Regions from separate parts of the Homo sapiens genome. Here regions 2 and 3 are each linked to region 1. Evidence: fine-mapped expression QTL. A gene starts in region 1. Each other region holds a variant in brackets. All regions are shown on one strand. Distances are between the middles of the regions.

The links. PIP is the estimated chance that this variant, and not a neighbour inherited with it, causes the effect.
Region 2: its variant is the best candidate, but not a certain one, in a credible set for the expression of C5orf34-AS1 in sun-exposed skin (GTEx, PIP 0.81).
Region 3: its variant is the best candidate, but not a certain one, in a credible set for the expression of C5orf34-AS1 in subcutaneous fat (GTEx, PIP 0.64).

Annotation. Positions count from the first base shown.
Region 1 is chr5:43,480,580-43,488,764 of GRCh38, reverse strand. It overlaps C5orf34-AS1 (C5orf34 antisense RNA 1), which reads right to left and starts at 4,846. Exons shown (of 3, transcript XR_007058763.1): 1 at 4,764-4,846; 2 at 623-721. It overlaps TMEM267 (transmembrane protein 267), which reads left to right and starts at 4,900. Exons shown (of 3, transcript NM_022483.5): 1 at 4,900-4,943. C5orf34 (chromosome 5 open reading frame 34) reads left to right here. Exons shown (of 13, transcript NM_198566.4): 12 at 816-856; 13 at 1,654-2,056. The coding sequence ends at 1,850. RefSeq lists enhancers at 4,571-4,760, 4,026-4,869 and a silencer at 4,815-5,045.
Region 2 is chr5:43,722,598-43,730,782 of GRCh38, reverse strand. No RefSeq gene overlaps it. Among named protein-coding and RNA genes, the nearest start is that of NNT-AS1, 120 kb to the right of the region's middle. The variant G/T (reference allele first, on the strand shown) is at 4,644.
Region 3 is chr5:43,580,412-43,588,596 of GRCh38, reverse strand. It overlaps NNT-AS1 (NNT antisense RNA 1), which reads left to right. Exons shown (of 3, transcript NR_073113.1): 2 at 5,031-5,130. It also overlaps the pseudogene AMD1P3. Among named protein-coding and RNA genes, the nearest start is that of NNT, 19 kb to the left of the region's middle. RefSeq lists an enhancer at 7,359-8,105. The variant C/T (reference allele first, on the strand shown) is at 3,569.

The DNA of each region.
Region 1 (8,185 bases):
AAAAGGATAAAGAACACACACTTAGGGGTTCTGCTGGAGACGTATATATTAGCCCTCTACTCCATACCAGTTGTCCCACTATCTTTCTATAGAACATGGTATAAGAGCTAATGTTCATCATGTTAACCCTCTGTGCTTAAAAAAACAATGAAATAAGTAGGTAGTCTATTCCAGAAAGAATTTAATAAAAAATAGTTGTTTTGACACGTAATTCAACTATTTAAAAACTTGGATCTCCCATACCATCCATTCCCAAAGAGTTCCATATAAATGAGGTCTTAATATATGCACAAGTACAGAAAAGTAAAAAATCCTTTCTTCTGAGAGAAACAATCTAGGTAGGAAGAGCAGGAAGTTAAATAGTTCAAGAGAAGATATTACAAATAAGTATGTGATTAATTAATATGCTATAGGAATTCAAGGAAGGAGAGAGCAGTTCTTTCACAGAAGGAATGGGATTTTAATAGGTTTGTAAAGTTTGCGTAAACTTTAGGGAGGAAAGTAGAGTGTAAGCTAGGTTAGTACTAAGAAGTAACAGGAAGGCCCATTATCCTCAAACATCAATATTTGATTACAAATTCCTTGAAGTGGATTTACAAGGGGTAGACTTTTATTCACTTACCTTTAAAGGCACTCAGTAAGTATCAGTTGAGTCAAGTTGATTTGTTGCTAAATAAAGGTAACATAAAGAGAATTCTTCTGCGTTCTTCCGTTTAAAATTCTAATGAAAAAAAAAGTCAGGTATGCTTATTTGAAATATCATGAATACAAAAGAATCAGACAACTGAATGAATTTTTTCTTTTTCCTTGGACAGGTCTGTTGCTTCTGAACTTGAAAAGATACAGAAGTTTAACTGTATCCTTTAAACAGAATGCACTGTCCTACATAATTACTCTCTTTCATTCTAGGCTTAATTCATGACTTCAGTACTTTGTGAATATTAATCTATACTTAATATATTGCTAACCTTTATTGAGTCAGCAAATACCTAAGATTGTAATTTAAGATGGATCTTGTCCATAGAAGGTATAGCATGTTAACATTTATACTTTTCTTTGAGTTTAAATTGGGCAAAGAACAGTTAATTAGGGTTAAGGTCTCCTTTGGAGACTTTTTCACTTACATAATTATATAATAAAATTATAACTGTTTAAGACCTCTTTTTTTAAATGAAATATTTCATTCTGTACATTCTCACCCAATTCATCTAAATTTGTTTTCTCTTGTGGTTTTTCTCTAATCTTATTCAAATAAGTTAGTTCTATAGCGAACAGGTTTTTCACTCTAAATCTTTTTAAATTAAAAATAGACACTACACAGATTCCTTATAATCCTGTCATCCTACTCTTTAATTCCCGTGTCATTTCTTCACTTAAAGAAATGTTACTGAAATTTTCATTTCCTCCTTACCACCAAACCTCCACCCAAACACACACATACACACTCTATTCTCTTTCCCCCTCCCTTATACTGTAATTAGTTTCTTCATCTACAAGGAGCAGACTTGATAAGCCTTGCAGTTCCAACTGTATTATGAATCCAAGAGGTCTTCCAGCTGAGAAATATTTTAATATGAAGCCTATGCTTTCTGTATATAAAGATATTTATATAGTGAAAAATGTGGGGAAAACCTCCTTAACTAAGCAACTTAGTGCTACTAGAAAATAGTGGTATCCTAAACCAGATTTCTAACAAGAAAAATGAACAACAGTCTTTTGATCATTATAAACCAGGATCTTCAGAAACCTTGCTAGGAGAAGTTAATGAAAATAGAGTATCAATAGCATTGAAAAAAACCTCTGAAATCCTTCACGATATTGACTGTCTTCTATCAAACTCTAAAAAGTGAAAAATGGAATTATTACAACATATTATTAAAGTTTAAGGATGTTGTTTCAAGTGACTGGTATAAAATTACTAGTAAGCCAAGATATTGTACGTATTACCCCGGCACAATGATTGTGAAAGAACTGACATTTAACTTTGAAGGTATTTTTAACTTGTACATTTTTAAAATATGTATTTATATCTTAATAATAAATATTTCGAAGTTTTGAACGTTTCACATTTAATTCTTATTTCAGATTAACAAGAAAAAAAATTTGTAACATTATAAAGTTGTTGCTGTTTTTATCTTGTGGAGCATTCACTATTAATCTTCAGGTTTTTTCATTTTGTTTGTTTTTACTGTTTGAGATACGGTCTTGCTTTGTCACCCAGGCTGCAATGCAGTGGTGCAATCATAGCTCACTGCAGCCTTGAACTTGTGGGCTCAAGGGATCTTCCCACCTCAGCCTTCTGAGTAGCTGGAACCACAGACATGTACCACCATGCCTGGCTAATTTTTAAAAATTTTTTTTGTAGAGACAGGAATCTCCCTATCTTGCCCAGGCTGGTCTTGAACTCCTGGCTTCAAGCTATCCTCCTGCCTCCGTTTCCCAAAATGCTGGAATTACAGGTGTGAGCCACTGCACCCAGCCTCTTTTTTTTTAATATGCAGAATTGTGCATTTGTTCACTTGCTATTTGGTCCCTTTACTCCAAGTATTTTTCAGTAGAGCTATGAGACAAGAACTACATCTCAAAAACAAAAACGGAGACAAGCAACATTGTAAACTAAAAATCAGGCACTTTGGCAAAGACTGTATCTAAACTGTCTCATGAACCAGATACTTTCTTTTGAACACAGGAAAAGATTTATGCTGCAAAGTGTTTAACAGAAATGAGCTCACCAAAAGTGCTATTTATTATAAGCTTGTCTATTAAGAAAGAACAAAACCAAATATCTATAATGACGTCAAGATTACACCAAACACAACCAGAAATGTTCTAATTTTCTGATTTCTATAAAAGACCTGGCTCTTCAAATAAACGGGAAGCAGTAACAGAGAAAACGAGAAAAATGGGGAGAAGAGTGTAGATCAGGAATGATAATGTCACTAAGTTAAAGGGGCACAATGCCTTTTTTTTTTTTTAGTTCCTCTGACACTGGATTCCTTCACATTTCAATTCTCAAACAAGTACCATTTCCTCAAAAGGGCCTTCCTTACTACCTGACTAAAGTTAGCATCTCCCAAGTCTATTACATCACCCTATTTACTTCCTTTATAGTACTTATTACAATCTGTCTAGCTTGTTTCCTTGTGGCTCACACCCTCCACTAGAACTTGAGCTCCATAGTCATTCTGTAGCACACTGAGAGCACTCTGTTTGTATAAATGAATCAGTAAGCTGGGCACAGTGGCTCACGCCTGTAATCCCAACACTTTGAGAAGCCAAGGAGGGGGGAACACTTGAGCCCAGGACTTTAACACCAGCCTGGGCAACATAGCGAGATGCCCATCTCTACAAAAAACTTAATTACCTGCACGATGGCATGTGCCTGTGGTCCCAGCTACTCCAGAGGCTGAGGCCGGAGAATCCCTTGAGCCCAGGAGGTCAAGGCTGCAGTGAGCTATGATTGCACCACTGCACTCCAGCCTGGGTGACAGAGGGAGACCCTGTCTCAAAAAAAAAAAAAAAAAAAAAAGGAATAAACATCTACAGGCAGTAGACCGACTACAGAGAAAAGAACTACTATTACATTGTTTGGGTTTGCATGAAGCCATCTATGTTGTTCCTCAATAGCTCCATAAAGCCTAGATTATAAGACTTTGTACCACACTGCCAAAAGGGTAATGCCAAATTATTACTGCATTCAGAAGGAGAAAATTTGTCCTTAACATGGCTAAAAGCACTCAAAATTATAAATACATTTGCTGAAAGATACTTTAAATTCTCATTTAAGGTGTGTGGGAGTTAAAAGGTGTTTAATTTTCCCTGTCAGTTGGGTGTTTTACATTGGCTAAGAACCAAGACTGTGACAAGAAATGAGTTCTATGATTGAGAAACTCTAAGATTCTGGGGGTGGCCTAGGAGTTTACTTTGAGATTGAAATTTATTTTCTATGGTCAACTGTATAATTACGATGATACCACCCCTTGCTTTCCATCTGACACTTGGTTTGAGAAACTGTAGGTAGGAAAGGGAAAGAAGAATGTCCCTCCTTGGGCCTCTTCTTTTGGGCCTGTGCTTCCTAGAGTCAAATGTCAAGCTGGTATTTCCTTGGTGCTAAGAGCAACCACCACTCTGAGGCAGAGACGGGATGGGACCTAGCCAAAGTCCCAGTAAACAAACTGTATCTTGTAAGCGCAATTTAATTAGGGTCAAACTATTCTGTATGGACTTGCTTTTTCGACTTCTGAGGATTTAGTAGTCATGATTAAGTGCTGTCACGCTACTGCGATCTACAAACAGTAGCTCCACAACATCCGCCCGCATCGTGGCAAAGAATTATCAAGAAATCCCCAAGGGGGCGGTGAGGAGCCGCCGGTCGGCCAGGTCGCCCGGTCCCTCAGTCTGGTGAAAAGCTCCGTTGCCCACCCTGAGGGCTTCGCGGAAGGAAGTTGGCCGTATCGCTGCACCTTAGAGATGCGACGGCCGAGGCTCCCAGCTCAAGCTTCTGGTAGTAAGGCCTGTGTGCCTGGCATTCGGGGAGGCCACTTTTCTATCCCCAGCTTCCGGGCCACCACTTGGGTGCGTCGTGGGGATGTCGGCAGCTACGTTTGCGGCACAGCTCCGGCTAAACTGAAAAACGAATCCTCAGGTTTGACAAAACTAAACTAAAAAGACACTTTTCTCCTCTCACTCTGACGTCCCAAAAGTTTCCTTTTTAGGGGTCGGGGCCTACGGTGGGCGAGGAGAAACTCGAGGTATCTACCCACCGCACCAAACAACTCATGCGTCGCTTCCTTTCGACTTGGAGCTGGCCAGTATCCCGGCGTCCTCTCGGCCGACGCTGCGGTCTGAGGCCACTCTGGCCGGCAGCCGACGTCTCTATGGCTCCGACCGAGGGGCGGAGCCGCTGCTCGAGCTGCTGCTGGATTGAACTCAGAGAAGCCGGGGTGGGTATGGCTGAGCCGCTGCGTGGGACTGAGGGGAGGGGGCCGGGTGGACGCCGCGGAACTGCGTCCTGAGGTGGGAGACCGGAGGTGGGGGACCACTGAGTCTGATGTCTGGAGGGTCCGGTTGCGGGTCGGAGGGCGTGCTGGAACAGCCGCCACGCGGGAGCCAGGAGCCTCCTGGGTGCGTGTGACCCACGAGCCGGCACCGTCCCGCGGCCCTGGGGTCTGCGAGGAGCCCTGGCGCCGCCCTCCGGCTTCGCGCTTTTTCTAGATCCCTAGAACCCCAGCCCTCCGCCTACGCTCCGCGCCCCTGGCCTTTTTCTGGCCCAGGGTGGGGTTCCGGGAGTCGTGCCGAAGGAGCCCATTGCCGTCCTTAACCGGTTGTAAGAGCCTTTCGTGCCCCGGAGCCTTTGAGGCTTGAATGCTGAGAGTGTGACATGGTCCTTTCCCTGCAGCCTGGCCCATTTTTTTAAATGACATTTGAAAAATTATTGCATCACACCAGACTCAGAAAAGGATGTCTGGGAACTTCTGAGGCTTGAAACATGTTGAAATACAGAATTTTGTTTTATTCGTAATGGGCATAGGAACTAAACATTTTAAGTGCAGACATCTGATGGCTATAAAAAGTTTCAGTGAAAGTAAGCAAGATTTGTGTTTCCTTTGTCAGTTAGTTGCATCAGATTTGGCATCTGCTTTTGATATTTTTCCATTAAAGAAATTAAATATATTAAGTTTACAGCAACTACAGTTCAGTGAAGAAGACTTACTGGTAAAGCATAATAAAGGCGGTTTCTGGAATTTGGACCGTGTTTTGACCTTGGGTTTTTGCATATAATGTGTAAGGTTGGTGGGGAAGAGGGAAAGTTAAAACAGATGACACTTACTTAGAGAATGTATCAGCTCTTATTTGTTTTGACAGAAATAATGTCTAAGAGATTATTAGCAAACAATACATGATAGCGTATAATTAAAGTGACCAGCTAATTATATGTTTGTGGAATTCAGGAAGGAGAAAAGTACTGTTATGTATACTCTGAAGGCCCCAAAGTTAGTGGTATTTGCTATAAGGGGGATGGGGTGTGACAAAGTTTGGCCATTGCAGAAAATGGCTTCTGCGAGTCATAGGGAGGAATTTATAATATGTCAGTTATGTCAGAGAAGCTATCCCAAACAGTATCTTTAGTTCATAGGCTGCGGATTTATTATGTGATTATCTCTTGTATTAGTAAAATGGAATATTTATTAAATACCTTGAGCACACTGGATTTTTAAACATGACAAGTTTAAAAGAGATCACTACTCTTAAGGAACCTTATCAACAAAAGTGAATATGTAAAAGGAGGTTCGGGAGTCCGTTTTATTTGTAGGGGGAGGAATAGGAAGTGGAAAAGGAAATAAAAAGTTTAAGAAGAAAAATGGGTACCCTTAGGTGTATTATTCAGAGACAATAAGTAATACAGGAAGAACACTTAGTAAATTTCTCTTTTTCTAATACTCAGACTCTGAGCCAGATGTTAAATATCTGCACCAAAAGTTGGAGTAGAATAGATGCCAGAAATGTGGGGTTCTGGAACTGCAATTATACCTTCCTTAAAAATAGAAATAGTTCTCTTCTACGTATCTATTGTGTAATAAATTACACCAAAACTTAGAGGCTTAAAACAGTAGACAGTAGGGGCCAGGCGCCGTGGCTCACGCCCGTAATCCCAGCACTTTGGGAGGCCGAGGCGGGCGGATCACGAGATCAGGAGATCGAGACCATCCTGGCTAACACGGGTGAAACCCCGTCTCTGCTAAAAATACAAGAAATTAGCCGGGCGTGGTGGCGGGCGCCTGTAGTCCCAGCTATTCGGGAGGCTGAGGCAGGAGAATGGCGTGAACCCGGGAGGGGGAGCTTGCAGTGAGCCGAGATCATGCCACTGCACTCCAGCCTGGGTGACAGAGCGAGGAACCATCTCACACAAAACACAAACAAACAAAAAACAGTAGACAATAATTTTATTCTTTCTGTGGGGTCAAGACTTAGCTGGCGGTTCTGGCCCAGGGTCTCATGAAGTTGCAGTCAGGATGTCGGCAGTGGCTGCGGACATCTGAAGGGTTGACTGGGGCTGAAGGATCTGCTTCCAAGTTCACTGTGAGCTTTTTCCTTCCTCTTTCATCAGCAAGCTGTTTTGTACTTTCCATTGGTAAAATGCATTCGCATTATACCCATTATATATAATATATGTGTTCCTATTCGTAAACCGTGATACAGTTTTTTGTAAACAGTAAATTTTGCTTGTTGAGGTCGCTTTAAATTTGGATCATCATGTAAATACTTCAAGTAATCTTTTGATTTTTCACTTTGCTCACGACACTTTATTAGCAAACTAATCCTTTTAAAATCTGAACTCATCATGTAAAATGTAGAGTTAGTAGGTTCGGTGTGGTAGTTTCTGCCTGTAGTCCCAGCACTTTGGGAGGCCAAAGTGGAAGGATCACTTGAGGCCAGGAGCTGAAGACCAGCCCGGGCAACACAATGAGACCCCATCTCTACAAAACACTTTAAAAACAAAAATCTAGCCAAGTATAGTTGTGCATTTCTGTAGTCCTAGCTACTCAGGAGGCTGAAGCAGGAGCCCATGAGTTCAAGGTTACAGTGAGCTATGATCGTGCCACTACACTTCAGCTTGGGCAACAGAGATACCTTGTCAAAAAAAAAAAAAAAAAAAAGTAAGCCGGGCGCAGTGGCTCACGCCTGTAATCCTAGCACTTTGGGAGGCCGAGGCGGGCGGATCACGAAGTCAGGAGATCGAGACCATCCTGGCTAACATGGTGAAACCCCGTCTCTAGTAAAAATACAAAAAATTAGCTGAGCGTGGTGGCGGGCACCTGTAGTCCCAGCTACTCGGGAGGCTGAGAGGCAGGAGAGTGGCATGAACCCGGGAGGCAGAGCTTGCAGTGAGCCGAGATCGCGCCACTGCACTCCAGCCTGGTCGACAGAGCAAGACTCCGTCTCAAAAAAAAAAAAAAAAAAAAAAAGTAAGATTATTAACATTTAAATATATATTGTGATTATTAAAAATTGCTTCATGAGTGAAAGAAAATATAATGCACTGGCTTTATAAGGACATCATGAAATTTGCAGTTAAGTGGATATTGGCTTTTTATTTTTGTCTTCCTTCTGGAATGAGGGTTGAAAATAAATTTGTAATTGGGTCAGGCTCAGTGGCTCACTCCTGTAATCCCAGTGCTTTGGG
Region 2 (8,185 bases), 240 kb before region 1:
AAGTGAAACATGAAAAATGTTATGATCGCTAACATTTTTTAAATACCTACTAATGTGCCAAGCACAGTTCTAAGTCTTTTACATGTATTAACTCACAACAATCTTATGAGGTAGAAATTATGACAACTGCATTTTGTAAGATGAGGGAAAGGAAGGTTAGGGAGGTGAACTGCCAAGATTACACAGCTAGTAAGTGGCAGATCTGGGGTTTAAACCCAGGTAGTATGACTCCAGAGACTTTCCTTTTAACCTCTACTCTTTGATGTCCCTGAATAAAAGTAAAGGAATATTGCCTATCAGACAGCATTAGAAATCTAGACAACAACCCATTTCACAAGATAACATTAGGTAATGAAGCTATAATCTCATCATGGTAACAATTTAAATGATTTTGCCCCCAACCAAAGGTAATGTTGTATTTTAAGGAGAGTAAAGAAAATCTTTTAATTCATTAGGATTGTACAGTCAGCCCACAAAACTTTCAGAATTTGGTGATTGTAATCGTCTTAATGAGAATGAGTATTTTTTTCTTCCAAGAGTTTAACATTGTTACCAGAAAGTAATATGAGGTTTTCTCCAAGTAGTTTAACTTAACTATAAAGGTCTGTCTTAAAGTGTTCTAATTTTTCATTGTCTTTTTCTATTTAATTCACAAATTTCTCATTTCCCCTTAAGTGAATAAACCATAAACTCAAATATTTTTCTTCTCATTGGCTCACAAGCACCATCTAGTGAAAAAACAGAATAATTACAGAATAGTTTCTCATGGGAATCACTATTTACTTTGTATTAACAAAGCCCAATACAATACCATTTTTTCATTGTTCTAAAACAGAATGAGATGTGTTCAATGAAACGTTATAGACAGGGCTAAAATTTGCATTCAAAAGTTGTTATTGTTTTGAATTTGCAGATATTGAGAACTAGCTTGCTTTCTATTTCCAACCCCTATTGGCCTTCCCACTACCAGGGACTATGAGTTATCAGATAGCATTTAAGTGATAAATTTTATGGTACCAATATTGCAGAATTGTTTTTGAAATTTATTGTTCTGTATCAGCCCACCCTTTGCTCTCTCCCTTTTCCTTTTCATTTCTCGTGCTATGTTTTTAAAAATATATTCACCAAACCATCTATTGAGGACAACACTTGCCCTCAAGAAGTTCACAGTTTAGTAGATTTAGATGTTAGGGAAATAAAGTATTACAGGTATTATGATAGTGTATAGTGTATAGTAGAATTAATCAATTCAGATAGAATTGGCTACTATTTTGCAATTTATTGTAGATCAAGAAGCACATCTTATTATACAGCAGAAACTCTTTTAGCCAGCCTCCACTTAACCAACTCACTACATTAACTGAAGCTCTTCATTGCATCTGTAAAATATATTGATTAATTCCCACTGTATACTGAATGCTTTGGGCTAGTAGGCTACTCTAAAATGCTCGTGGACTTCTGTTGCTACCAGCTAATTGTATGCTTAACAAGAGGCAACTGGGTTTTGTTTCCAAACATGTTCATGCAAGATTTACTTGCAGTCACACAATATTAATTACACAATTTAATTAAATAATACATCAACCAATAAAATATAAGTTTAAGTACTATTGTCAAATCAGGTTGGAGTGAAACAACTATAAAAGATTTGAGGAAAATCATAAAAACTAAAAGAATTCTGCATTCAAATTGCATTGAAGATGTTTTTAGGTTTTTACTCTAATTTTAAAAAAAAACTTACTTGATGTCTATAGATATGTTTTATGCAAGAGAGACAGTGTGCAGCATTTCTAGTATCTCAAACCTTAAGATGAAGTGAACAATGATGACAAAAGGATTAATAACCAAGAACCATATAAAAAAGTGGCAAAGAGGCTTAAGAATAATGTCAAAAAAAGCAAAAGCACAAAGGGAGCTCAAGGCTGTGGAAAAAAACAATAAACTTCGCCCTTAAAATCATATTTAGCGAAAAATGAGAGCAGGAGATGTGCACATCTTTGGAGTATGGTAGATGATGTCATAGTAAGTAGCAGAGAGAAAGTTGATCTCAAATCCCATTTTCCTCTGTTTCCTGTAAAAGAGAGTGAAACTTAGATGGAAAAAAGACCCTTACAAAGGACCTCATAACTCCTCTAAATTGCGTTCAAATGAAACTTTCACATGCTATTTCCAAGCATAATTCCAGAGCATGCTTTGAGCTGACGGAATCTGTAGTCAGCCATCTTTAAAGAATCAAGACAAACTAGAAAAGTGTTACAAGTGTTACAAATATATTCCTGACCAAAAATGGCAAGAAGTGGATAGTGCAAATGATGGACTGGACTGTTAATCATCTTCAGCTACATTCCAGAACAAATTATTAAAATCTTAGACTATGAGAATTTTTAAAGGGAACCATGTTGAGTATGGATCAGAATTAGTTCATAGAAAACAAGTCCTACCAGAACTAACTCATTTCTGGGTTTGTGTATTTATTACGTTAGTCAGTTTCTTATTTTTGTGTGCTTTTAGAAGATATTTGACAAAGCTTCTAAGATATTTTTCTGGACAAAAAGTGAAGAAATATGAGTTCAATATACACAGTTGTTTCTACCTAAAGTACCCAGATTAACAGATCAGAGTCAGCCTTGGAGAAGAGCTTGGAATGCATGTTGCCCAGTTTTAGCCTAAGCCCTACAAAATGATGACATCTTTTTTCCCTCAGTGAATCCAGTGAGAAAATTGATGCTGTATTTGCAGGTGACACAAAATTAGAAGGAACAGTCAACACATTGGATGAAACAGAATCAGAAACCTGATCTCAGAGGATAGAAAATGGGCTCAAATGAGTCAAGTTAAAAAAAAAAAAAAACTACATGTGTAAATGGGAGAGAAATGGATTCACATCAGCAGCATGTGTAGAAAAAGATGAAGGGTTTTAGTTAAGTTCATTGTAAGAAAAAGAAGTGTCAAAAGAGTTCATGTTATCATAGACTGTATTAATTAAAGAATTAGTAGCTTAGAGAGGAGATGCCCAGAATAGTCTGTCAGTGGTGTCAAATGTTACAGAAATGTGCAAGAAAATGCATTTGAGATATGTATTTGGTGATGAGGTTATTGTTTACTTTCCAAAGTGATTTCAGTTAAATAATTAAGGTAGGGACCAAAAAAAAAATTTTTAAGGAGCAAACAGAATGTGAGCAAAAGTACCCATTAGAGGGCTTTGATTGGTAAAGGGAAGAAAATAACTTTTAGATAGAGAAGATAAGCTAATATTAGATTAATGTTAAGTACTCTTGTTTTTTTAAAAAAACTTTGAAATTTTATGCAATTTAGAGTAAAACAATTAAAATTCAAAAACTACATGCTTAGTATTCCTAGATTATTATCCAGCTTCAGCTGTGCTGTCTCTAATAATCAGTAATTTTTATATTTTATTTTAATTTTTTTTAAGATAAGCATATCAGAAAGACCAACTCTGGGTGATACAAAGGAACTAGAATATGGTTTAGCAGAATTATTGGAGTAGTAAAAAGAAAAGAGGAATCTAAACTGTGAGCAACAGCAGACAGAAAATTTTCTGCCTATCAGCTCTACCATAAAGAAACAACCTGTATAGGAAACATGGGCCAGAATGGAACAGAGAAAAGAGTCAGAAGATGATGAAGAACCCAGACAATAAAAAGAGGAGCACTAGAAGTAAAAGGAGGACAGAAATTCTGCCCAAACCAGGCTAGACTACAAGCTTCATAATTTTTGAATAAGGAAAGAGTAATAGTTAACACCGAACCACAATATGGTTTTCTAGTTGAATAATTTGTAGCTTGTTATGTGGATATGTATGCTTAGGTAGATAATGAGGACTACAGCTATACCATGAAAAAGAGAGGGAGAAGAAGAGAGAGAGAGAGGGAGAGAGAGAAAGGAAAAGAGAGGGAAGAAAGACAGGGAAAACTACTCAAGAGCAGCCTGCCCATAAAAAGGAGTACTACAGACCCTGGGAGTGAAGCACATGATCCTTCTCATGGCACCACACCAAAACAACTGATTCTGTATTTGTAAAGGGTGAAAAAATCTTTCTGAAAAATTGACTCTACCAAACACATGCATGAAGTTAAGCAAATGTCAAATTGGTACAATTACTATATTTCTTTGCTTCTTTGTTTAGTATCACAAAGAGTTCAAAAATTACAAATAGTTTCAACTTACTAAGAAGTTGTTTTCTAAATGTTAGTTGGCAAATCAGTTCTATGACAGCAAAGTGTTGTGGTTCAGAGTGGAGCCAGACAGCCCAGATTCAAATCCTGATGCCACCACCTACTTAATTAATTGGGCCCTGAGCTTCCACATCTATAAAATGGGATAGCTACTCAAAGGATTGTTCTGCTGTAATTAATAAGTTAGTATATTGAAAGTCTTTAGGACAGTGGTTGGTACTTAATCAGTGTTAAACAAATGTTAGCTATTGTAATTAGCATCCTTATAGAAAGAGGAACAGGAGCATAATAGGGCCGTGGCTATGGGAAAAAAACAGGAGAGAAATACCATGTCACCAGGAAACTGATGATAAACAGGCATAAGTCATTTTATTGTGCTTTAAGGCATTTTGCAGATATTGTGCTTTTTTACAAATTGAAAGTTTGTAGCAACCCTGCATTCAGCAA[G/T]TCTGTCAGCATCATTTTTCCAACAGCATGTGCTCACTTTGTGTCTTTGTGTCACATTTTGGTAATTCACATAATATTTCAGACTTTTATATTATTTTTATATTTGTTATGGTGATCTGTGATCAGTGATTTTAATGTTACTATTGTAATCGTTTTGGGATTGATAAATGTTGTGTGTGTTCTGACTGCTCCATCAACCAGCCATTCCCCAATCTCTCGCCTTCTCCTCAGGCCCTCCCTATTACCTAAGACACAATAATATTAAAATTAGGACAATTAATAACCCTATAATGGCCTCTTAAGTTTTCAAGTAAAAGGAAGAGTTGCACATCTCTCACATTAAGTAAAGAGATAGAAATGATTAAGCTAAGTGAGGAAGGCATCTTGAAGGCCAAGACAGGCTGAAAGCTATGCTTTTTGTGCCAGTTAACCAAGTTGTAAATGCAAAGGAAAAGTTCTTGAAAAAAATTAAAAGTGCTACTCCAGTGAACACGTGAATGATAAGAAAGTGAAACAGGCTTATGGCTGATATGGAGAAAACTTGAGTGGCCTGGAGAGACGATCAAACCAGCCACAACCTTTCATTAAGCCAAACCTAATCCAGAGCAAGGCTTAACTCTCTTCAATTCTCTGAAGGCTGAGAGAGGTGAGGAAGCAGCTACAGAAGAAAAGTAGAAAGCTAGCAGAGATTGGCTCATGAAGTTTAAGGAAAGAAGCCATCTCTGTAACATAAAAGTGCAAGGTAAAGCATCAAGTGCTGTTGTAGAAAGTGCAGCAAGTTATCCAGAAGATTTAGCTAAGATAATTGAAGGAGGTGATCGCGCTAAACAAAAGATTTTCAATATAAATGCAACAGCCTTCTACTGGAAGAAGATGACATCCAGGAATTTTGTAACTAGAGAGGAGAAATCAATATCTGGTTTCAAAGCGTCAAAGGACAGGCTGACTCTCTTGTGAGAGGCTAATGCAGGTGGTGACTTAAAGTTTATGCCAATGCTCATTTACCATTCTGAAAATTCTAGAGCCCTTAAGAATTATGCTAAACCTACTCTTCCTGTGCTCTAGAAATGAAACCGCAGAACCTGGATGACAGTGCGTCTGTTTACAGCATGGTTTACTGAATATTTTAAGCCCACTGTTGAAAACTACTGCTCAGAAAAATAGATTTCTTTCAAACTATTACTGCTTATTGACAATGCACCTACTTATCCAAGGGCTCTGCTGGAGATGTGCAAGCAGATTAATGTTATTTCATGCCTGCTAACACAAGAGTCATTCTGCAGCCCATGAGTCAGGAAGTAATTTTGACTTCCAAATCTTATTATTTAAGAAACACATTTTGTAAGACCATAGCTACCATAGATAGTAATTTCTCTGATGGATCTGGGCAAAGTCAATTGAAAAGCTTCTGGGAAGGATTCACCATTCTAGATACCATTAAGGACATTCATGATTCATGAGAAGAGGTCAAAATATCAATATTAACAGGAGTTTGGAAGAAGTTGATTATAACCCTAAAGGATGACTTTGAGGGGTTCAAGGCAGAATGGAGGAAGTAACTGCAGATGTGATGGAAATAGCAAGAGAACTAGAGTTAGAAGTGGAGCCTGAAGATGAGACTGAATTGCTGCAGTATCATGATCAAACTTTAACATATAAGGAGTTGCTTCTTATGGATGAGCAAAGAAAGTGAGATGGAATCTACTCCTGGTGAAGATGTTGTAAACACTGTTGAAATGACAACAAAGGATTTAGAGTAAACTTCGTTGATGAAGAAAGAGCAGGGTTTCAGACACCAATTTGAAAAGAGGTTCTATGAGAGTAAAATGCTATTACACAGCGTCACATACTACAGGGAAATCTTTCATAAAAGGAAGAGTCCATCAATGCAGCAAACTTCATTGTTGTCTTATTTTAAGAAATTGTCACAATCACCTCAATCTTCAGCCACCACTACCCTGACCAGTCAGGAGCCATTAACATCAAGGCAAGACCCTCCACCAGCAAAAAACTATATATATATATGACTCATTTATGGCTCTGATAATTGCATTTTGTAGCAATTTAAGTATTTTTAATTAAGGTATGTACATTTTTAAAGACATAATGCTATTACACACTTAGTTGACTATAGTTTAGTGTAAACATAACTTTTTTTTAATTTATTTTTTTTTAATTATACTTTAAGTTTTAGGGAACATGTGCACATTGTGCAGGTTAGTTACATATGTATACATGTGCCATGCTGGTGCGCTGCACCCATTAACTCGTCATCGAGCATTAGGTATATCTCCCAATGCTATCCCTTCCCCCTGCCCCCACCCCATAACAGTCCCCAGAGTGTGATATTCCCCTTCCTGTGTCCATGTGATCTCATTGTTCAATTCCCACCTATCAGTGAGAATATGCGGTGTTTGGTTTTTTGTTCTTGTGATAGTTTACTGAGAATGATGATTTCCAATTTCATCCATGTCCCTGCAAAGGACGTGAACTCATCATTTTTTATGGCTGCATAGTATTCCATGGTGTATATGTGCCACATCTTCTTAATCCAGTCTATCATTGTTGGACATTTGGGTTGGTTCCAAGTCTTTGCTATTGTGAATAATGCCACAATAAACATACGTGTGCATGTGTCTTTATAGCAACATGATTTATAGTCCTTTGGGTATATACCCAGTAATGGGATGGCTGGGTCAAATGGCATTTCTAGTTCTAGATCCCTGAGGAATCGCCACACTGACTTCCACAATGGTTGAACTAGTTTACAGTCCCACCAACAGTGTAAAAGTGTTCCTATTTCTCCACATCCTCTCCAGCACCTGTTGTTTCCTGACTTTTGAATGATTGCCATTCTAACTGGTGTGAGATGGTATCTCATTGTGGTTTTGATTTGCATTTCTCTGATGGCCAGTGATGATGAGCATTTTTTCATGTGTTTTTTGGCTGCATAAATGTCTTCTTTTGAGAAGTGTCTGTTGATGTCCTTCACCCACTTTTTGATGGGGTTGTTTGTTTTTCTCTTGTAAATTTGTTTGAGTTCATTGTAGATTCTGGATATTAGCCCTTTGTCAGATGAGTAGGTTGCAAAAATTTTCTCCCATTTTGTAGGTTGCCTGTTCACTCTGATGGTAGTTTCTTTTGCTGTGCAGAAGCTCTTTAGTTTAATTAGATCCCATTTGTCAATTTTGTCTTCTGTTGCCATTGCTTTTGGTGTTGTAGACATGAAGTCCTTCCCATGCCTATGTCCTGAATGGTAATGCCTAGGTTTTCCTCTAGGGTTTTTATGGTTTTAGGTCTAACATGTAAGTCTTTAATCCATCTTGAATTGATTTTTGCATAAGGTGTAAGGAAGGGATCCAGTTTCAGCTTTCTACATATGGCTAGCCAGTTTTCCCAGCACCATTTATTAAATAGGGAATCCTTTCCCCATTGCTTGTTTTTCTCAGGTTTGTCAAAGATCAGATGGTTGTAGATATGTGGCATTATTTCTGAGGGCTCTGTTCTGTTCCATTGATCTATATCTCTGTTTTGGTACCAGT
Region 3 (8,185 bases), 100 kb before region 1:
TGCAACCTCCGCCTCCCAGGTTCAAGCGATTCTCCTGGCTCAGTCTCCCAAGTAGCTGGAATTACAGGCACCCACTACCATGCCCAGCTAATTTTTGTATTTTTAGTAGAGACGGGGTTTCACCATGTTGGTCAGGATGGTCTCGATCTCCTGACCTCGTGATTCGCCCGCCTCGGCCTCCCAAAGTGATGGGATTACAGGCGTGAGCCACCGCGTCCGGTCATTTTATTAGTCTTTAAAAAAAAAAAGGAACCTGAACTTTTCTAACACAGCTGGAACAATTCACAGCAGCCGCGGCAGCCGCAGCAGCAGAAGAAAAGGTTTAATTTAGTTGATTTTCTGTGGTTGTTGATTGTTCGCCAGTCTCATGGTGATGGAAGCTGTACATTTTTCCGAAGGGACCGAGAAGCGGCTGGAGGTTTGGTTCTCCTGGCAGCAGCCCAATGCAAACCAAGGATCTGGGGATCTTCGCACTATCCCAAGATCTGAGTGGGACTTTTTTTTTTTTTTTTTTTTTGAGACGGAGTCTCGCTGTGTCGCCCAGGCTGGAGTGCAGTGGCACGATCTCGGCTCACTGCAACCTCGGTCTCCCAAGCTCACGCCATTCTCCTGCCTCAGCCTCATGAGTAGCTGGGACTACAGGCGCCCGCCACCACGCCCGGCTCATTTTTCGTATTTTTAGTAGAGACGGGGTTTCACCGTGTTAGCCAGGATGGTCTCGATCTCCTGACCTCGTGATCTGCCTGCCTCAGCCTCCCAAAGTGCTGGGATTACAGGCGTGAGCCACCGCGCCCGGCCAAGTGGGACATACTTTTGAAGGATGTGCAACGTTCAATGATAAGTGTGACAAAAACTGACAACCAGGAAGCTTGTGTACTCAGTGAGAGTAGCATGTTTGTCTCCAAGAAACGTTTCATTTTGAAGACACGTGGTACCACTCTCTTACTGAAAGCGCTGGTTCCCCTGTTGAAGCTTGCTAGGCATTACAGTGGGTTTGACTCAATTCAAAGCTTCTTTTATTCTTGTGAGAATTTCATGAAGCCTTCCCCCTAAGGGTACCTACACTAGAATTTCCAGGAAGAAATAGAGTTTCTTAATGCAATTTTCCCAAATGGAGCAGCATATTGTATGGGAAGTATGAATTCTGACTGTTGGTACTTACGTACTCTGGATTTCCCAGAAAGGTAATCAGTCAGCCAGATCAAACCCTGGAAAATTTGATGAGTGGGCTTGACCCAGCAGTTATGGACCAGTTCTACATGAAAGATGGCGTTACTGCAAAGGATGTCATTTGTGAGAGTGGAATTCACAACCTGATACCAGGTTCTGTCATTAATGCCACAATGTTCAATCCTTATGGGTATTCGATGAATGGAATGAAATCAGATGGAACTTATTGGACTATTCACATCACTCCAGAACCAGAATCTTTTTATGTTAGCTTTGAAACAAACTTAAGCCACCTCCTATGATGACCTGATCAGGAAAGCTATGGAAGGCTTCAAGCCAGGAAAATTTGTGATCACTTTGTTAATCAGAGTTCTAAATGTCGCGCCGTGTTTTCTTCACCTCAGAAGATTGAAGGTTTTAAGCGTCTTGATTGCCAGAGTGCTATGTTCAATGATTACAATTTTGTTTTTACCAGTTTTGCTAAGAAGCAGCAATAACAGCAGAGTTGATTAAGAAAAATGAAGAAAAAAATGCAAAAAGAGAACACACGTAAGAAGGTGGTGGATGCTTTCTAGATGTCGATGCTGGGGTCAGTGCTTTCCATAACCACCACAGTGTAGTTGCATAAAGCCCTATATGTAATGATAGTGTAATCATTTTGAATTGTATGCATTATTATATCAAGGAAATAGATATCTTGCACGAATGTTCGCTTCTGTGTTTAGGTATTCTCTGCCACTCTTGCTGTGAAATTGAAGTGCATGTAGAAAAAACCTTTTACTATATGAAACTTTATAACACTTGTGAAAGCAATTCAATTTGGTTTATGCACAGTGTAATATTTCTCCAAGTATCATCCAAAATTCCCCACAGACAAAGCTTTCATCCTCATTAGGTGTTGGACTCAGCCTAACCGTCTAGGACTGTTCTATTAAATTGCTGCCAGAATTTTACATCCAGTTACCTCCACTTTCTAGAACATATTCTTTACTAATATTATTGAAACCAATTTCTACCTCATACAGAGGTTTTTTAAAACAGCAATTAAAGTTTTTCTTCCATGAAAAAAAAAAAAAAGAAAGAAAATCGGTCTCTTTCTCTTTAAGAGAATTTGAATTTGATCCAATTGCTTTTGACACCCTAGCAGCAAGTCCTTTGAGATGCTTGCCATTGTCCCCATGTCTAACAAGGATCTCCACTAGACACAGAAGTTTTTCTAAATCTATCAAGAGCCTAGTTAATTTTTCTTTCAAATGCCTACCTCCCTTTTCCCTCAAGAAAGGTCAGTAGGGCAATCACCACTAATTCCTGCAAAGAAGGCATAAGTACAGTTACCATGGCATAACGAAAATGAATTATCAGATATGAGTGGACAGTAGAGAGATGGATGGCTGCATCCACTAGCAAATGGAATGCAACAAAAGAGGAGTTTTTGTTTGTTTGTTTGTTTGTTTGTTTTTGAGACGGAGTCTGGCTCTGTCCCCTAGGCTGGAGTGCAGTGGCACGATCTCAGCCCACTGCAAGCTCCGCCTTCCGGGTTCACGCCATTCTCCTGCCTCAGCCTCCTGAGTAGCTGGGACTACAGGTGCCCGCCACCACACCTGGCTAATTTTTTTGTATTTTTAGTAGAGACAGGGTTTCACCACATTGGCCAGGATGGTCTCGAACTCCTGACCTCGTGATCCGCCAGCCTCGGCCTCCCAAAGTGCTGGGATTACAGGCTTGAGCCACCGCACCCGGCCAAAAGAGGAGTTTTAATAAGCAAATTATTGAAGGAGAGATTAAAATAAGGAAATAGGATTCTTATAGTCTGAATTCCACAAAAAGTGAAGAAAGCATTTTGGAGAAAAAATGGGATGACAAAGACAACAAGAAAAAATGAGACCAAGATCCCCCAAGGATGGGACTCTAACCCACAATCCTAGAGGGGATACCTAGATCCCTCTAGAGTGGGACTCTAACCCACAATCTTAGAGGGCCAAAAGCAGTTAATGCTGAAAAACCTGGAGCATCCAGGCATCAACCAATGACGGTCCCCCACATCAAATGCTACACATCCCAGAACAACCTGGAGGCAGACAACAGTGAACCCCAAAGGCACAAGCCCAAGGTCCTCAATGGTGGGATTCTCACCCACAATCCTATGGGGACAATTCCAAAACAATTGGGGGCACAGAACAGCATGACTCCAACATTCCAAAGTCAGCACAATGGGGGATCACTCATAATAACAAAAGAAAAAATGCAGCCAGGCGCAGTGGCTCACACCTGTAATCCCAGCACTTTGGGAGGCTGAGGCAGGTGGATCATGAGGTCAGAAGTTTGAGACCAGCCTTACCAACATGGGGAAACCCCGTCTCTACTAAAAATACAAAAATTAGCCAGGCATGGTGGCGCA[C/T]GCCTGTAATCCCAGCTACTCAAGAGCCTGAGGCAGGAGAATTGCTTGAACCTGGGAGGCAGAGTTTGCAGTGAGCCGAGATCACGCCACTGCACTCCAGCCTGGGTGACAGAGCAAAACTATGTCTTGGAAAAAAAAGAAAAAAAAAAGAAAAAAATGCAAAACAAGGAAACTGTCCTACCTCATATAACATAGAAACAATTGCCCAAATAGCAGGGGAAACAAAGGAGACACCTATCCATGGAGGGCAAATGGTGCTGATTGATGTTAGTAGGGGGGCGTCCAGTGAAGGTCTCCTGCAGTTCCCCTCGGCTTGTTAATCCCTTCATGGGTTCCAGGAAAGATGATGCAGGTGAATCCCAAAACTGGGGCTCAGCCCAGGAGGGTTCTTGGCTTCATGCAGGAAGGAATTCAAGGGTGAGCCAACAGAGTAAAGTGAAAGCAAACCAAGTTTATTAAGAGCAACAGAATACAGGAAAATGGCTGCTCCATAGATAGAGCAGGGCTACCCCATAAGCAGAGTAGCACTCATGGATTGCTGACTAACTCTATTTATAGCTACTCCTTAATTATATGCTAAATAAGGGGCAGGTTATTCATAAATTTCCTAGAAAAGGATGAGGAGTTCTCAAAACCAAAGGTTCCTCCTCTTTTAAACCATATAATAGCTTCTGGACATTGCCATGGCATTTGTAAACTGTTATGGCACCAGTGTGAGTATCTTTTAGCATGCTAATGTATTATAATTAGTGTATAACACAGATCAAGGGCAATTAGAGATCACATTCGTTGCCATCTTGGTTTTAGCTGATTTAGCTGATTTATTTAATGCCTCCTGTTTTGATTAGCAAGGTTGTGACCAGTGTTTGGAAAACAAGTCCTGCTGATCTACCTCTATATAAGATAATTAAATTAGATAATCCATGTAAAGTGTTCATTTGGAACATAGTAAATGCTAAATATTAGCTATTATTATTGTTATTATTTTCCTCCCAATATGCAAATTTAGATGGATAATAAAATTATAAGAAGAAGATTGCTTAGCACTAGATTCCCAGAAGTGGTTTATTCATTAGTTTAATGGCCTCAGGCAGGATACACCCACTGCAGCATCTAGAGTGCTCAATCTCAGGAAAGGGTGCACTTTCATGGACTCTTCAGAATCCTACTATTATTTCACATCTCTGCAACTGTAGGCTGTCAGAAAAACAATACTCCAATACAAAGGCTTCAAAAGCAAGTCTCTCTGACCTTCTATCCTCCTGCCTCTGGCCCCTCATTCTCCCAAGGCTAGCCTTAGAAACTAGAATTTTTCTTCCTCAAGGCAGGTCATAGAAACTAGAACCCCATTTCCCCAACACCAGGCATAAAACCTAAAAGTATTATCCTAACGTTCCCCCAACATTTTTGTGTAAAAATCAGCCATAAAAAAAATTATTTGACCTACCTTGTTTGATTGCAGGTCTAAAGACCCTCATTCCAGAGAGCATCCTGCCCCATATCCAGAATGAAATCCATGCTCAGAGATGCCAAGAAGAATCTAGACAGACAGGCCTTTCTAGGTAGGTTTCCCCACTCGGTCTTTAGCATTAGATCTTACCCTTTTTGTCCAATCATATTTCTACATAGCTGCCCATACTTTGTTGAACCTAATGATAAAAATGGACAGTTTCCTCTATATCTTTGGGTCCGCATTCTAAAGGCTCCTGTGTCAGGTACAACTCTAACCAAATAAATTTATATGCCTTTTCTCCTAGTAATATGTGATTTTCAGCAAAACTTCAGAAGGCAAAGGGAAAGATTTCCCAGCCCCTAACCAACATTTGGCACTCGTAAGCTCTTCCTCTTTAACCTTCTATTCTCCACTGGCTTCTGTCATTTTATTCCTATGTAAATGAAGAAAACAGATTTCTCTTCTTCAATCCAGCCATTAAACTTGATAATTTTCTCTTCTCTTCTGTCTCACTTTTCCTAAGTAATCTCATTTCTTCCTGTGGCTTCAGCTATCAAATCTCTAACTCAAGCAACATTGCTCTGAGTGCCAACACCATAAATTTAACTCTCCTCTGAAGAACTCTACTTGGATGCTCCAGGTACCAAATGAAATATCCAAAACGGAAGAAAGGAGAGTCCCTTCATTTCCTGAATCTGCTCCCTTCTGGTATTCCGAATCTTATAGGCTGAGGCACCAAAGCCAGAATCCTGAAAGTCATCCTGATCTCTGGCCTCTCACTAATGACTCACATACAATCTCTCAACATCTGTCAACTTCTTCCTAAAAATCTCTTAAATGTGGCCCTTCTGTCCAACCCCACTACTACTAGCTTAGTAGCTACCATCATTTCTCACCAGAATTTCTACAATAGCCACTGAACTTGTTTTCTGCTTCATGTCTCATATGCCTCCAACCTACCAATCTCACACCCCTGCTTATCCTCAGCACCTGGAACAGTGTCTGGCATGAAGTAGACACAAATCAATATTTGTTGAATGAACAAGCGAATGAATCAATTCCTATCATAGAGCCCAAGGAAAAACTTCCCCTTTGCCCTCTGAAGTTTTGTTGAAAAGTCAACTGACAAAAAAAGCAGATTAAAAGAAGAAATGACATGAGGAATAATTACTCTGTGGTTCTCCTTTGTGGGTATGTTAATAAATTTCTGTGCCATTTCTCCTATTAAGCTGCCTTTTATCAGTTGATTTTTCAGTGGACCTTCAGAGGGCAAAGGGGAAGTTTTTGCTTGGCTCCTATAGTTTTGGTGCTGTGAGCAGTATACCAAAACTATTCTGCTCTTAAGCCAGAGTGAAGGGAACCCAGGACCTGACTAGCTGCCAGAAGAACAAGAATTTCTTACCGGCCAAGCTTCTGGCCTCTCTTTCTGTGGAATCTGATCAAGTTGACAGTTAAAATCCCTGTTTGTCTCTTTTCTCTGCAAAATCTTGATTAATGGGAGACAAGGATTTGTGTGAGTAGTCTTGGGTGTTGTGACTCTGGTGTAATTTTTGGTTTAAGTATTCATATTATTTGATCCTTTTTGTCCCAGAAATCAACTTTTTCTTTCTTTGTCTTTCCGTGTTGTTATGTCATAAAGAAGGGTACCAAGCATGAGGTAGAACATAGGCCTAAAGCCTTTATAAGCCCATTTTTCCAGCCAGCCTTGCGGACTTGTCAGAATTGTAGTTCTGACCAGAACAGCATATAAACTTTGTTGTGGGCCCCCAAAATAAAAACCATATGAGATTCCCCTTTCATCTTGTTTTATATCCTTGAAAGTGTGGCTGGTGACAAAGTGGGAGCACTCTCTCTTGGTCTCCACTATCTATGAGGCATGATTTTCAGGTCATATAAGGTGACCAGTCTGAAAATGGCTGGGACGTGAGACATGTAAGATTTTAAGCAGCACACTTTTTGTTATGAATGTGTCAAGCTCTCAGGGGAGTTTGTCTTAAAAGTCCCATCACTGTGGGCTTTTGTCATCTCAACTCTTGTTGCTTGGTTCTAAACAATTGCCTTCTTTGTGTTTATAGACAGACCAAATTAAAATAAAGACATATAATAGTATCATGGCTAACCTTAGAAATTCTCTTGACAAAATTAAACAGCAAAAATCTGACCTAACACAAAGTGAAAATCATAACTGAAGGGGTGGGTTGCCCCTCCACACCTGTGGGTGTTTCTCGTTAGGTGGAACGAGAGACTTGGAAAAGAAAAAGACACAGAGACGAAGTATAGAGAAAGAAAATAAGGGGACCCAGGAAACCAGCGTTCAGCATATGGAGGATCCCGCCAGCCTCTGAGTTCTCTTAGTATTTATTCATCATTTTTGGGTGTTTCTCAGAGAGGGGGATGTGGCAGGGTCATAGGATAATAGTGGAGAGAAGGTCAGCAGATAAACACGTGAACAAAGGTCTCTGCATCATAGACAAGGTAACGAATTAAGTGCTGTGCTTTAGATATGCATACACATAAACATCTCAATGCCTTACAAAGCAGTATTGTTGCCCGCATGTCCCACCTCCAGCCCTAAGGCAGTTTTCCCCCATCTCAGTAGATGGAACATACAATCGGGTTTTATACCGAGACATTCCATTGCCCAGGGACGGGCAGGAGACAGATGGCTTCCTCTTGTCTCAACTGCAAAGAGGCATGCCTTCCTCTTATACTAATCCTCCTCAGCACAGACCCTTTACGGGTGTTGGGCTGGGGGATGGTCAGGTCTTTCCCTTCCCAGGAGGCCATATTTCAGACTATCACATGGGGAGAAACCTTGGACAATACCTGGCTTTCCTAGGCAGAGGTCCCTGGGTACTTGAGATTAGGGAGTGGTGAAGACTCTTAATGAGCATGCTGCCTTCAAGCATCTGTTTAACAAAGCACATCTTGCACCGCCCTTAATCCATTTAACCGTAAGTTGACACATCACATGTTTCAGAGAGCACGGGGTTGGGGGTAAGGTTATAGATTAACAGCATCTCAAGGCAAAAGAATTTGTCTTAGTACAGAACAAAATGGAGTCTCCTATGTCTACTTCTTTCTACACAGACACAGTAACAATCTGATCTCTCTTTCTTTTCCCCACAATAACATATGTGCTCAAACTGTCTGTAGGATTCACA